Linked DNA regions of Homo sapiens. The protein of the gene in region 1 interacts with the protein of each later gene in a pairwise test. Each region holds a gene or a part of one and is shown in the gene's direction. Other genes may lie near its edges.

Region 1 (3,500 bases):
TCAGACGACAGCACAAGGTCAGGTACAGGTGTGCCTCAGTCTGCCCAGGGGTGTGTTATCCTCTCCCCAGCCCTCAACACTAGATCAGTGAAATCCAGACTCTAAGGGACTTCGATTTTGGACTTTCAGTGAGTGCTCTCCCCTCCCCCAGTTATCTGATAACATCTCCCCCAGTCTAAAGTTCCACTGGCAGCCAGGTGCCCGGCTCTGTGCTACAGAGTGCTTTATGGACGTGACTTTGTTTGAATCCTAAGCATAATAATAGCGGGAAATGGTTTCATGGTTTCACGGTGCGTGCGAGTACTGGCTCTGATCTGAGTCCTTGACGCATTGACTCATGGGCTTCCTGAGGACCCTGAGAAGTGGGTTTTGCCTCCATGTCCATTCTGCTGAGGATTGCAGGTAACTTGGCTAAGGTCTCGCGGCAAGGGAATGGTGGAGCCAAAACTCGAATCCAGACTTGGCACCCAAGCCCTTCACCAGTAAGTTTGTCACCTCCACCACCTGAGCCTTTTCTTCAAGAAGCATGGGCTCATTTTTTTAGTGAAATTTTTTGTTATTATGGAAAATGTCAAACACACCAAAGTTAGAGGCAGAGTATAATGAGCGATCAGGTTTCCTCACCTCGCATGCACACACATACACATACTCACATATGCACATGCATACTTATGCTCACAGAAGATGTGCACATGTGTACACACACATACATATGCACACACATATATGCACACATACACACACACGCTGGATTATTTTGAAGCAAATACAAGATGTCAGGTCATCTGTAGCTTCTTCCTAAGAAGCATTTAAAGGAAGCATCACATCTCAAAGAGGTTGACTGTTACTCTATGCGGGGCAAGAGTCGGGAGATGTACGTCCTTTCTGACTTGGGCTTGAGGCTCCTTCCTTGCTTGGACAAAGGGAGGATGGCAAAACCCAACAGCACATTGGGGGATCTGTCCTGCTGCCAACCCCCTGAAACCTTTGGGAAGCTGCCTGTTTGCTTTGTGTTTTAAAAGTTCTGTTCATTGCCCAACGTTAAAAATAAATGAGTCCAGTGGTCATGAGACAGACCACATCAACAACAGGCTTAGGCTCTCGGGGCCTTTCTTGGAGATGGGGAAGAGAATCCGCCAAGGCACAGCCCAGCCTTGCCTGCCATTGAGGTCCAGACCTTGTGCAATGCAGGCATGGGATTTGTGGCAGGGCTGGGTGTCAGGAGATGTGACTGTGAGAATGGTTTGTCAACAAGCTCTGAATCTGACCTGAAGCTTAGCCTGACCCTCTTGAGTTTACTGCGTAGGCGATGGGTGGAGGAATCCAAGAACCTCTGCCACCCTTGGGCGTCTCTTGGAAAACTAGGGAGGCATTGGGTGATTTGAGCACAAGATGAAGAAAATATCAGGATGCAAACTCCACACTTGAGAAATGACTGCTGAGTAGGAATATAGGATTCCAGGGTTGGAAAAACCTACCTGTGACAAGGGCTTGACGGGTGCCCCAGTTGTGAACACACCTTGCCAGACAGTCAGAGTGTGGCCAATCTGGTCACACCCTTTCCAAGGTCAGAGTGAGGAGCTGCACTCCACACCAAGAGAACCACTTGAGTTTTCTAATTTATACAAGCAGACACCAAGGGAGCATGTGTGGGAGTGGATATTAGGATGTGGAACGAACATGAAGTTGGATCTGGCCGAATTTATGGATATGGGCCCACTAAGCGGAGATTCTGCACTTGATGTTGTAGCTCAGGGGGTTAAGAAGAGATCTGTTTGGTTGGCTGACTGGAACATGGATCAAAGGATGACCCACTGTGAGTAAGTTGGAGTTTCTGGGTCTCCTTTGGTTTAATGTAGAGTTAGGGATTCATAGGCTTAGGTTTCATGTAGAGTTAGGGATTCAAAGGCTTAGGGACATTGGAATGCTGGAGTGGATTTGTCTCTTAAAAGCTACTCACCCACACTGGGAAGGTTCAGAAGACAGATCTTTCACGCATACGTTGAGAAATAGATTTGTGAGGGGGCCCCAGCATCCCTGAAGAGCTCCGTGATCCAGCCCTTACAGTGGGAGCCGCAGTCACTCAAATGGAAAACTTAAATGCAACGGGAGTAATTGCATTTGGAGTGCAGCGGCCAAGTGGCAGTACTCAGCCATCCAAGGCAAGGTGAGTGTGGTTACCTAATGGACGGCAGAGGCAAAGCTGCCGTCAGAATAGTCTGACTTGTGTGGATCTATGGCATTGGATAGTTAATCATGGTGTTCCTAGAAGTGAAATAGACAGGAAACCCGTGAAATTCTTACTTGATCTTATAAGTTACTTGATTCTTTTAAGTTTTCTGTATAAGCAGAAACTTACAGGTCAAATGAAAAAAAGTCTAACTTGAATAATTAAAACAGAAAAATAATTAAAACAGAAAATCACAGCCCTCAATCAACTTCCCAGACTTAACCCAGTTTACACAACTAAGCCCCCATGAATGAATGAATGAGTGAATGAATGAATGAGTGAACGAATGAATGAATAAGTGAACGAATGAATGAATAAGTGAATGAATAAGTGAATGAATGAATGAATGAATTGGAAGCTGGATCCCTTTGAAGAAGGACCTCAGTACACTAGAGAAAGTTTATGCTATTAATTTTTCTCCTAGCCTTCCCCAAAGGGACCTGTGACCTTTTACCAGAGTGAATATGTATTGAGGAAAGGGAAATAATTAGATTGTTCGGGGATAACTGGTTACTGAACTGATACTGATTCCAGGAAACCAAAAATATCACTCACTGTGGCCCACTAGTCAGAGAAGGGGCTTATGGAGGTCAGGTGATCAATGGAGTTTTAGCTTAGGTTTGACTCCTGGTGGCTCCCGTGGATCCCTGAACCCATCCTGGGGTTATTTCCTGGTTCCAGATTCAAAGTTGACATACTTAGCACCTGGCAGAATCCACACACTGGTTCCCTGCCTTGTGCGGTGAGGGCTGTTATGGTGGGAAAGGCCAAGTGGAAACCATTAGCGTTGCCTCTGCCTGGGAAAATAGTACATCAAAAGCAACATTGCATCCCTGGGGTGGGGCTGCCGAGATTAGCACCACCATCAAGGACTTGGAGGAGGCGGGGGTGGTGACCCCCACCACATCCCCATTCAACTCTCCGATTTGGCCTGTGCAGAAGACAGATGGACTTTAGAAACTGATAGTGGATTATTGTAAACTTAACCAAGTGGTGACTGCAAAATTCACACATCTCTGGTCCCTGCTACTGCATGCAGCTGTTGATCTGACGAATGCCCTTCTCTTTATACCTGTCCATAAGGCCCAGCAGAAGCAGTTTGCATCCAGCTGGTAAGGCCGGCAATGCCCCTTGGCGGTCTGGGCTGATGGGTATATCAGCTCTCCAGCCCTATGTCACAGTTTAGTTCACAGTCATCTTGATCACCTTTCCCTTCCACAGATATCATACTGGGGCTGGGCACGGTGGCTCACTCCTGTAATCCTAGCAC
Region 2 (3,500 bases), on another chromosome or scaffold:
TGGGAGGTTTGGTGATCCTGATAGTTAAGTTCCATGGCAGCTGGACCAGATGCATCTTGCTTTTCTTCTTTGCACAGAATGTGAAGGCTGTGTCTGAGACTCCTGCAGTGCCACCAGTTTCAGAAGATGAGGATGATGATGATGATGATGCTACCCCACCACCAGTGATTGCTCCACGCCCAGAGCACACAAAATCTGTGAGTCTTTGGGGACCTGGCCAGTTTTGTGATTTATTAGAGTAAGTGGGGAGAGGGAGGAGTTGGTGCTGATACCTAGAAGTTTAATATTCTGGTAGGCGTCCTTAGATTTTGGAGCTGGTGAAATCACTGAACTACCTTGACTAAAGGTACTTTCTGTATGATTAAAGACAAAAAATCATGTGTTTATTTATCATTGGTTTGCAGATAGTCCCAAAGTGTCCTAGGTAATTGATGTTTATACCAGTCCAGTCTCGGTTCTCCACAGATAGGACAGGAAGATATATAGGATTGATGCTACTTAGTGCAGGACTAACATAAATTATTCCAGTCTCCAGGGAAGCAACAAATTGTCTTGCTACAGATCTTTTCTTCTCTGTTAAATGTGCAGTGTTCAGCCTCTTAGAGCATTATTGATAATATTGAAAGACCCAAGAGAATATATAAATACATTAGTGCTATTAATATGCTGGGCATCAGGAGTGCATTTTGATGCCGGATGTTGGCAGTGATTTCTATTTAACTTCCTTTGAGGTTCCTGCATCTCTGAGAATAGCCATGGTCCCTCTAACCTTGCTTTGAAACATCTAGTCCCTGTGCCTTTTACTTAATTTGGCATCACTGAGCACTGACCTACCATCAGATGATACTCTACTAGTGTTTCTTTGTTTAGGTCTTTTACTAAGATGAGAGCTCCATAATGAAGGAACCATCTAGCACTTCTGTGATCATGAAAGAAAAAAAAAAGGGCTACCTCTGGAATACAGCATTCAGGGAGGTGTTCAAACAGAAATTGGTTGAATGACTATTGGAGATGCTGTGGAGGAAATTCAAAGGAATTATATGACCTATTAGGATGAGAACTTACAAACAGAATCTGTGGAATCATCTCTGTAGGTCACAAAGTTACCTCAAGGGAAAATGCGCTTCAAAATTGGAGAGTCGTTAACACTGATATGGTTTTTTTTGGTTTGTAGACATGTTCATTTAAAACATTTTTTTCCCCACTAAACCATGAACACCTCAAAAAGTAGAGGAAATCCATATGTATGTATTTCTAGTGCTTAACATAGTTCTTGGCACCTGCAGAGGTGGGTAAATATCAGAGGACAGTAAATATTGAATTAATTAATTAATTGATCTTCATAGCATTTCTTTCTAAAAAGGTATTGGTAATTCCTAATTTATAGAAGAAGCAGCTGAGATTTGGAGAGGTGAATTGATCTGCCCAGTCTCTTAGTAAACAAAAGAGCCAGGATTTGAAAGCAGGTAATTAACCCCAACTCCAGGTTGTTTTCCACCATAGCACAGTGGTATTTTTGTGTGTACAAACCTGTGCTAGGAGCCAGAGAAGGAGACTATTAAAGAAGGAAAAGGCAAGGTTTCTGTCTTCAAAGAGATATATCAGGACAGGCAAAAGAGGACAAGGCATGGAAGTACAGGTTTAGGTGCCTGGGATATAGTTTGTCTACAGGTACAAGAATAGAAAATTGAGAAATCATTATGCTAGAGTAGTAATCAGGAAGGAAGCCATTGCCTCTGATCTCAGCGTCTTGGCTTATTGCTGTTCCCACTACTGGAATGTTCTCTCCCATTTCCACCTATTAAAAGCCTGTCCAGTCAAAAGGTAGCATGGTCAAGCAGTCCAAGGTGCAGGATGTAGTTGGCTTTAGTCTCTGTGGAGCCATGGGTTTGAGTCCCACTGTTGCCAATGGCTTTGCATCATCGCAGATAAATGATCATCATAGATAAATGATCCTCTATCTTTGTAGAAACCTATCCGTCCTTCAGGATCCAGTTGCAGGATCCTGTTTGTTTATTTATTCCATCAAATATTTACCTGAATGCTTGCTTTCTTTTAGTAAGTGGTTAGATGGAGGAACTCACGGATGAATGACCCACATTCCCTGTCCTTATACTGTTTATGGACTATGCAAAAGATAATTGTGATATTTTTATGATAAAATCTGTTAAATACCTTGAAGCATCTCCTGGGGAAAGGAAGTATAATTTATGATCACTTCTGAACCTCAGTAGTATATAGCTTGCTTATTTCTTTATAACATGTATCACTTTCTGCCTTGTAGTTATGATTTTCTCACCTCCTTTATAAGAATGAGAGGTTGGGGCAGCATTTTGTACAGGGTGAGGCAACAAATAGATTCTCAGTAAATGTTTGTTATGTAAATGAATGAATAGGACATTTAATATTTTTAAAAGGTAAAATTTGAGTGCTTAATGTCTGCTGGGGATGAGTCTGATTACCTCACATATTAATCAGTTTACTCCTACAGCAACCCCAAAAGATAGTTATCATTATTATCACCATTTTATAGATGAGGAAACTGAAACACAGAGAAGTTAAGTAACCTGCCCAAAGTCATGCAGAAGGTAAGAATAATAAGAGTTGGGATTTAAGTTCAGGCAGTCAGGTTCCAGAGTCCATGTTCTAAATCATCACACTCTACTACCTCTTGATGAAGAACAAAAGTAGTTCCTTCCCTGCAAGGGTTCAGGATGTAAGGAGGGAGTAACTCAATAGAAGTTGGTGTTGTACTAGTAATGCAAAGTGCTATTTGCATTACTACAGGATATGTCTTTTAACTTGGGGAAGCATAAAATATTACAAATGAAGGGGATTCTTACCTAATAGAATTGTCTTCAACTAATTTCTTTTGTTACAGAATATTTCTTTTAGCTTGGGGAATACAGGATATTTCTTTTAGCTTGGGGAAGCATAAAATATTACAGATGAAGGGGATTCTTATCTAATAGAATTGTCTTTAACTAATTTCTTTTGATAGTTGTCTAGCCTCTATTGAATATCTTTAGTGCTGAGACTCTCACTTCTTTTGTTTACAGTGAGAGTAAGGAAGGCCATTTTACCCAGAATGGGTGGGCCTGGGCACAGAGGAGGAGTAATATAGATTTTGACATAAGAGAAAGGATGAGTTTATTGGGGTTTGCTCTGTGGATGTTCTAACCTCACATCTAGGAGAGGTTCCCCTATGCTAACAAAGGCTGGTCTTGCCAAAATTTTGCACTAATAATGCAGGTATACACACGGTCTGTGATTGAACCACTTCCTGTCACTCCAACTCGGGACGTGGCTACATCTCCCATTTCACCTACTGAAAATAACACCACTCCACCAGATGCTTTGACCCGGAATACTGAGAAGCAGAAGAAGAAGCCTAAAATGTCTGATGAGGAGATCTTGGAGAAATTACGTAAGGAATTTGTAGCTTTCTGAACCTTTCTTCGTTTTATGACTGGTCAAGCACAGAGATTTGCTGGTCGTAG
Region 3 (3,500 bases), on another chromosome or scaffold:
TCTCCTAATGCTATCCCTCCCCCCTCCCCCCACCCCACTACAGTCCCCAGAGTGTGATGTTCCCCTTCCTGTGTCCATGTGTTCTCATTGTTCAATTCCCACCTATGAGTGAGAAGATGCGGTGTTTGGTTTTTTGTCCTTGCTATAGTTTACTGAGAATGATGATTTCCAATTTCATCCATGTCCCTACAAAGGACATGAACTCATCGTTTTTTATGGCTGCATAGTATTCCATGGTGTATATGTGCCACATTTTCTTAATCTGGTCTATCATTGTTGGACATTTGGATTGGTTCCAAGTCTTTGCTATTGTGAATAGTGCCACAATAAACATACGTGTGCATGTGTCTTTATAGCAGCATGATTTATAGTCCTTTGGGTATATACCCAGTAATGGGATGGCTGGGTCAAATGGTATTTCTAGTTCTAGATCCCTGAGGAATCGCCACACTGACTTCCACAATGGTTGAACTAGTTTACAGTCCCACCAACAGTGTAAAAGTGTTCCTGTTTCTCCACATCCTCTCCAGCACCTGTTGTTTCCTGACTTTTTAATGATCGCCATTCTAACTGGTGTGAGATGGTATCTCATAGCGGTTTTGATTTGCATTTCTCTGATGGCCAGTGATGGTGAGCATTTTTTCATGTGTTTTTTGGCTGTATAAATGTCTTCTTTTGAGAAGTGTCTGTTCATGTCCTTCGCCCACTTTTTGATGGGGTTGTTTGTTTTTTTCTTGTAAATTTGTTTGAGTTCATTGTAGATTCTGGATATTAGCCCTTTGTCAGATGAGTAGGTTGCAAAAATTTTCTCCCATTTTGTAGGTTGCCTGTTCACTCTGATGGTAGTTTCTTTTGCTGTGCAGAAACTCTTTAGTTTAATTAGAGCCCATTTGTCAATTTTGGCTTTTGTTGCCATTGCTTTTGGTGTTTTAGACATGAAGTCCTTGCCCATGCCTATGTCCTGAATGGTAATGCCTAGGTTTTCTTCTAGGGTTTTTATGGTTTTAGGTCTAATGTTTAAGTCTTTAATCCATCTTGAATTAATTTTTGTATAAGGTGTAAGGAAGGGATCCAGTTTCAGCTTTCTACATGTGGCTAGCCAGTTTTCCCAGCACCATTTATTAAATAGGGAATCCTTTCCCCATTGCTTGTTTTTCTCAGGTTTGTCAAAGATCAGATAGTTGTTGATATGCGGCGTTATTCCTGAGGGCTCTGTTCCGTTCCATTGATCTATATCTCTGTTTTGGTACCAGTACCATGCTGTTTTGGTTACTGTAGCCTTGTAGTATAGTTTGAAGTCAGGTTGCGTGATGTCTCCAGCTTTGTTCTTTTGGCTTAGGATTGACTTGGTGATGCGGGCTCTTTTTTGGTTCCATATGAACTTTAAAGTAGTTTTTTCCAATTCTGTGAAGAAAGTCATTGGTAGCTTGATGGGGATGGCATTGAATCTATAAATTACCTTGGGCAGTATGGCCATTTTCACGATATTGATTCTTCCTACCCATGACCATGGAATGTTCTTCCATTTGTTTGTATCCTCTTTTATTTCATTGAGCAGTGGTTTGTAGTTTTCCTTGAAGAGGTCCTTCATGTCCCTTGTAAGTTGGATTCCTAGGTGTTTTATTCTCTTTGAAGCAATTGTGAATGGGAGTTCACTCATGATTTGGCTCTCTGTTTGTCTGTTATTGGTGTATAAGAATGCTTGTGATTTTTGTACATTGATTTTGTATCCTGAGACTTTGCTGAAGTTGCTTATCAGCTTAAGGAGATTTTGGGCTGAGACAATGGGGTTTTCTAGATATCCAATCATGTCATCTGCAAACAGGGACAATTTGACTTCCTCTTTTCCTAATTGAATACCCTTTATTTCCTTCTCCTGCCTAATTGCCCTGGCCAGAACTTCCAACACTATGTTGAATAGGAGTGGTGAGAGAAGGCATCCCTGTCTTGTGCCAGTTTTCAAAGGGAATGCTTCCAGTTTTTGCCCATTCAGTATGATATTGGCTGTGGGTTTGTCATAGATAGCTCTTATTATTTTGAGATACGTCCCATCAATACCTAATTTATTGAGAGTTTTTATCATGAAGGGTTGTTGAATTTTGTCAAAGGCCTTTTCTGCGTCTATTGAGATAATCATGTGGTTTTTGTCTTTGGTTCTGTTTATATGCTGGATTACATTTATTGATTTGTGTATATTGAACCAGCCTTGCATCCCAGGGATGAAGCCCACTTGATCATGGTGGATAAGCTTTTTGATGTGCTGCTGGATTTGGTTTGCCAGTATTTTATTGAGGATTTTTGCATCAATGTTCATCAAGGATATTGGTCTAAAATTCTCTTTTTTGGTTGTATCTCTGCCCGGCTTTGGTATCAGGATGATGCTGGCCTCATCATCCTGAGGGAGGATTCCCTCTTTTTCTATTGACTGGAATAGTTTCAGAAGGAATGGTACCAGTTCCTCCTTGTACCTCTGGTAGAATTCGGCTGTGAATCCATCTGGTCCTGGACTCTTTTTGGTTGGTAAGCTATTGATTATTGCCACAATTTCAGATCCCGTTATTGGTCTATTCAGAGATTCAACTTCTTCCTGGTTTAGTCTTGGGAGAGTGTGTGTGTTGAGGAATTTATCCATTTCTCCTAGATTTTCTAGTTTATTTGCTTAGAGGTGTTTGTAGTATTCTCTGATGGTAGTTTGTATTTCTGTGGGATCGGTGATGATATCCCCTTTATCATTTTTTATTGCGTGTATTTGATTCTTCTCTCTTTTTTTCTTTATTAGGCTTGCTAGCGGTCTATCAATTTTGTTGATCCTTTCAAAAAACCAGCTCCTGGATTCATTAATTTTTTGAAGGGTTTTTTGTGTCTCTATTTCCTTCAGTTCTGCTCTGATTTTAGTTATTTCTTGCCTTCTGCTAGCTTAAGGAGTTTCATTCTTGTTGCCCAGGCTGGAGTGCAGTGGAGCAATCTCGGCTCACTGCAATCTCTGTCTCCTGGGTTCAAGGGATTCTCTTGCCTCAGCCTCCCAAGTATCTGGGATTACAGGCGCCCACCACCATGCTGGCTAATTTTATATTTTTAGTAGAGATGGGGTTTCACCATGTTGCCCAGGCTGGTCTCAACTCCTGACCTCAGGTGATCCACCCACCTCTGCCTCCCAAAGTGCTGGGATTACAGGCATGAGCCACCACACCTGGCCACAAGTTGCAAAACTTTTCTAATCCTTGTCATTGAAATAAATTGGATTAACAAGAAAGGAAAACCTGCCATTGGAATCCTAGGCAAAGAATGAACCCTAGCTCCTTACTGGGGTGATCGTTAGGTACATGAGAAGCAAAGGAAAACTTTTTGCTGGAAGTTGGAAGTTGGTTCTGCCAAGAGCACCTGAGCCAAGGGCCTCTCCAGGAAGGGTCTTTAGGGTGGTGGCCAGACACATCTCGCTCCATTCCCACTCACTGTTTTTCAGAACTATTTTCCAAGCCCGAACTGGAATCTTCCTTCAC
Region 4 (3,500 bases), on another chromosome or scaffold:
AGAGATGTTAAAACTTGCAGTATTGGTAAAACTACAAAACACATCTTCACCTTAGCTATGAAGTTGGCTTGGTGCAGCTGCCAAAAATAGTACCCAGGCCTGGGAAGTAAATTGCGTAAAAGCAATGAACCAAATTTCCAACAATAAAGCTCATAGTTGAGTGAACTAGGGATGCTTTTGTGATTTTCTGTGATTTTGTTATGCTGTTTTTTCTTGAACTTGAGACTTTCCTGTGGGACAATTTTACTTGGTAGCAAAACCACAAGTTGCACAGAGCACTTGGCCACATGTCTGGGAGGAAACGCAGTTGTCCCCTGGGGGCAGACAGCCTTACTAGACCAGAATCTTGAGCCTCAGGGTACATTAGGTAACACTGGAATGACCTTGGATATACAGAATGAAAAGAGTTCAGCTGTGGCTATTGGAAGGGGGTCGGGGGGGGTGACCAATCACAGACTGGGATGTTGTCAGTCAACTCTGACCTCCTCCAGAAAGGCTGGAGACTGTAAGTCTCCACAAAACCTAGCATTCTTTTTTTTTTTTTTTTTTTGAGATGGAGTTTTGCTTTGTTTCCCAGGCTGGAGTGCAGTGGCGTGATCTTGGCTCACTACAAGCTCTGCCTCCCAGGTTCACGCCATTCTCCTGTCTCAGCCTCCCAAGTAGCTGGGACTACAGGCACCTGCCACCACGCCCAGCTAATTTTTTTGTATTTTTAGTAGAGATGGGGTTTCACCGTGTTAGCCAGGATAGTCTCGATCTCCTGACCTCTTGATCCACCCGCCTCGGCTTCCCAAAGTGCTAGGATTACAGGCATGAGCCACTGCGCCCAGCCAAAACTTGGCATTCTTATCCAGAATTCTGCATGGTGCCAGACTAGCCACAGTTGGGAGTGGGAGATGGTAAGAGAAGGTACTATTTTGGCTAATATTAATAATTAATATAATAATAATTAACTTTAAAATATAACAAGTAAAACTACTATGTGCTGCATGCCAGACACTGTTCAGGGTGCCTAACACATGAATCATGTGCAATTCTTTAATTCTCACAATAATCCGGTGAGGTGTTGATTATTATAATTACTGCTACCCTATTAAAGCTTTTAGTGCCTTAAAGTAATCAACATACACAACTTTTAGAATTCATTACTACTGGGCCTCTGAAGAGAAATGCAGTCTCCACTCTGTTCTCTCTTTACCCACCCCCAAGCCTCATTCCCCAGAGTCAACCACTTTTAATTCTTTTAGCTGTTTTTCTGCTATTTATCACCAATGACATGTGCATACTACTGGTATGCTCCTATTCTTTGATTTTTCAATTTTAGACATTTTCTATTGACTTTCCACTGTAGACAATTAGGACTGAGCCCTCACATGGCTGGGCTTTACCTCTACTTGGGAATTCTTTTACTCTCCCCCTGGGTTGAACCCCTTGCTCCCTGGATTCCAGGTCTCCTTGTTTGGTGGCTTACTCTCTTATTTCTATGGAGCACATCCTCAAGTAATCTCTTAAAACATGCACAAAGTCCTCCTCTTTTCAGCCTCTCCCAGTCTGTCACCGCCTACTTCCACCTTCAGGACTACTGGCTCCTGCAGTTCCAGAGCCTTTCCAGGGTTCCATAGCTCAAGTCAGCTTGCTTATTGTAAGCTTCTCACTGCAGGAATGTAACAGAACTAAGATGCAACTCAAGTAGGTCATGTCCCTTCATCCAGATGTTCCTAATTTCCAACATTTGGTTGACATCTCTCATCTGCTGTCATCTGTGCTCACTTTTTGTCCTTATTGATTTATGCCCTTTTATTTCCTTATCCTCATTTCACTGGGATTTCAGCAGAATAAATACATAAATACATACATACATATATAAATACATAAATAAATACATGCTTGTGTTCATTCTGCCACATTTAATTAGAAGACCCTTAATCTGATATTTGATACGAGTAAAAACTGAGACCAGAAGAGGTTAAGTAACTTGTCTAAGGCCACATAGCCACTACATGGAGAAGCTGAGCTGAAATGAAGCTTTAAGATCAGTTTGGGCAGGCACAGTGGCTCACGCCTATAATCCCAGCACTTTGGGAGGCTGAGGTGGACAGATCACCTGAGGTCAGGAGTTTGAGACCAGCCTGACCAACATGGTGAAACTCCATCTGTACTAAAAATACAAAAAAATTAGCCAGGTGTGGTGGCAGGCACCTGTAATCCCAGCAACTTGGGAGACTGAGGCAAGAGAAATGCTTGAACCCGGGAAGGTGGAGGTTGCGGTGAGCTGAGATTGAGCCATTGCACTCCAGCCTGGGCGACAAGCAAAACTCCATCTCAAAAAAAATATCAGTTTGACTACAAAGTTACTACTTCAATTGCCTCACCAAGACCAGATGCCCACTCCTCAGGAAACTCTAGGGTGGCCCCGGGAACCTCAGAGACCAGAGACAGCAGGCTACATACTTCTCAGTCTAGCCTACACTGAACGGTGAGGGGCCACAGCCAACATTTAGCACTGGGCCCTGACCACAGCTGTGAGCTTGGCTGCTCTCACCTCATAAACATGTATTTATGTCATTCTTTTACATGCCAAATCGGTCCCAAGTCAGTTACATGTTTGAAGTTGTACAGAGGTTTCATTATATGCTCATCTATGAGTAAGTGGTGCCTCTGGGGCTGGGCTACAACCTAAATAAGAAAAACCCAATGAGGAATATGGGAAATTGTTCTCAGTGTATACAGCACCATGAAAAAAATAAATAAATTGAATCACAAACAAAACTAAATGTAGAGCCTTATGGCTGTTTTCACATTTTCAATATTTGCATATACTGCATAGACCTGTGCTCTATGACGCAATCTCTGGTCACAGCTGTTGATATCAGAACAGCATGTGGGACCCAAGCTGCCCACTCTTGCTTAGCCCACATTAATAATAAGGTGGAGATACCTACGAGGGAAGGGTTTAGAGGGGAAGAAGCCTTTGACCAGGCAGAGACCAACTTGCCAGTCCCAACCCCAGAGGGCACTGTCATTTATTAAAGGAGTAATCAGGATGTGGTCTGGTCTCTTCCTCTGCCACTCAGGAGTGCCAGGTGATCCCAGGCTTTCCCCATATTTGCCATGCCTTCTCCAGCTGGGTGGTGTTACACTAGAGCACAGGGAATACTGTCCATTTAATAGGTCAAATTCCCTTTCATTGTCTCACTCATTTGTGCAACAAATATTTATGGAGCCACTGCCTCTGTGCAAGGCACTGTTCCGAGTACTGGAGATGCAGCAAAAAAAAAAAAAGACTCATCATGGCCCCTGCCCTTATGGAGCTGATATTCTAGTGGAGGAAACAGACAGACCTGAGAGGAGGATAATTTTCTCAATTGTGGAGTTGACTTCCTTATTTGAGTTCCAAATAATGTGGTCAAATCAGAAGGTCATAGACTTCATGGAAAGCATATTGCTGCAAGACCAGACAGAAATTCCTTTTGCAACAGTCAGATTCTAAAATTTTGAAA

The links. Proteins that work in one complex are often made in the same cells at the same time.
Region 2: the proteins of SPSB1 (region 1) and PAK1 interact in binary tests that used the Homo sapiens proteins (3 or more experiments, as listed by UniProt).
Region 3: the proteins of SPSB1 (region 1) and PECAM1 interact in binary tests that used the Homo sapiens proteins (3 or more experiments, as listed by UniProt).
Region 4: the proteins of SPSB1 (region 1) and TRIM55 interact in a two-hybrid assay, tested with the Homo sapiens proteins (one large-scale study listed by BioGRID and IntAct).

The regions. Positions count from the first base shown.
Region 1 is NC_000001.11:9,295,894-9,299,393, forward strand, and holds part of SPSB1 (SPRY domain-containing SOCS box protein 1), read left to right. Parts: intron 1-3,500. UniProt on the Homo sapiens protein: Substrate recognition component of a SCF-like ECS (Elongin BC-CUL2/5-SOCS-box protein) E3 ubiquitin-protein ligase complex which mediates the ubiquitination and subsequent proteasomal degradation of target proteins.
Region 2 is NC_000011.10:77,355,595-77,359,094, reverse strand, and holds part of PAK1 (serine/threonine-protein kinase PAK 1), read left to right. Parts: intron 1-77; coding exon 78-197; intron 198-3,252; coding exon 3,253-3,427; intron 3,428-3,500. UniProt on the Homo sapiens protein: Protein kinase involved in intracellular signaling pathways downstream of integrins and receptor-type kinases that plays an important role in cytoskeleton dynamics, in cell adhesion, migration, proliferation, apoptosis, mitosis, and in vesicle-mediated transport processes.
Region 3 is NC_000017.11:64,363,361-64,366,860, reverse strand, and holds part of PECAM1 (platelet endothelial cell adhesion molecule precursor), read left to right. Parts: intron 1-3,463; coding exon 3,464-3,500. UniProt on the Homo sapiens protein: Cell adhesion molecule which is required for leukocyte transendothelial migration (TEM) under most inflammatory conditions.
Region 4 is NC_000008.11:66,130,129-66,133,628, forward strand, and holds part of TRIM55 (tripartite motif-containing protein 55), read left to right. Parts: intron 1-3,500. UniProt on the Homo sapiens protein: E3 ubiquitin ligase that plays an important role in regulating cardiac development and contractility, muscle growth, metabolism, and fiber-type differentiation.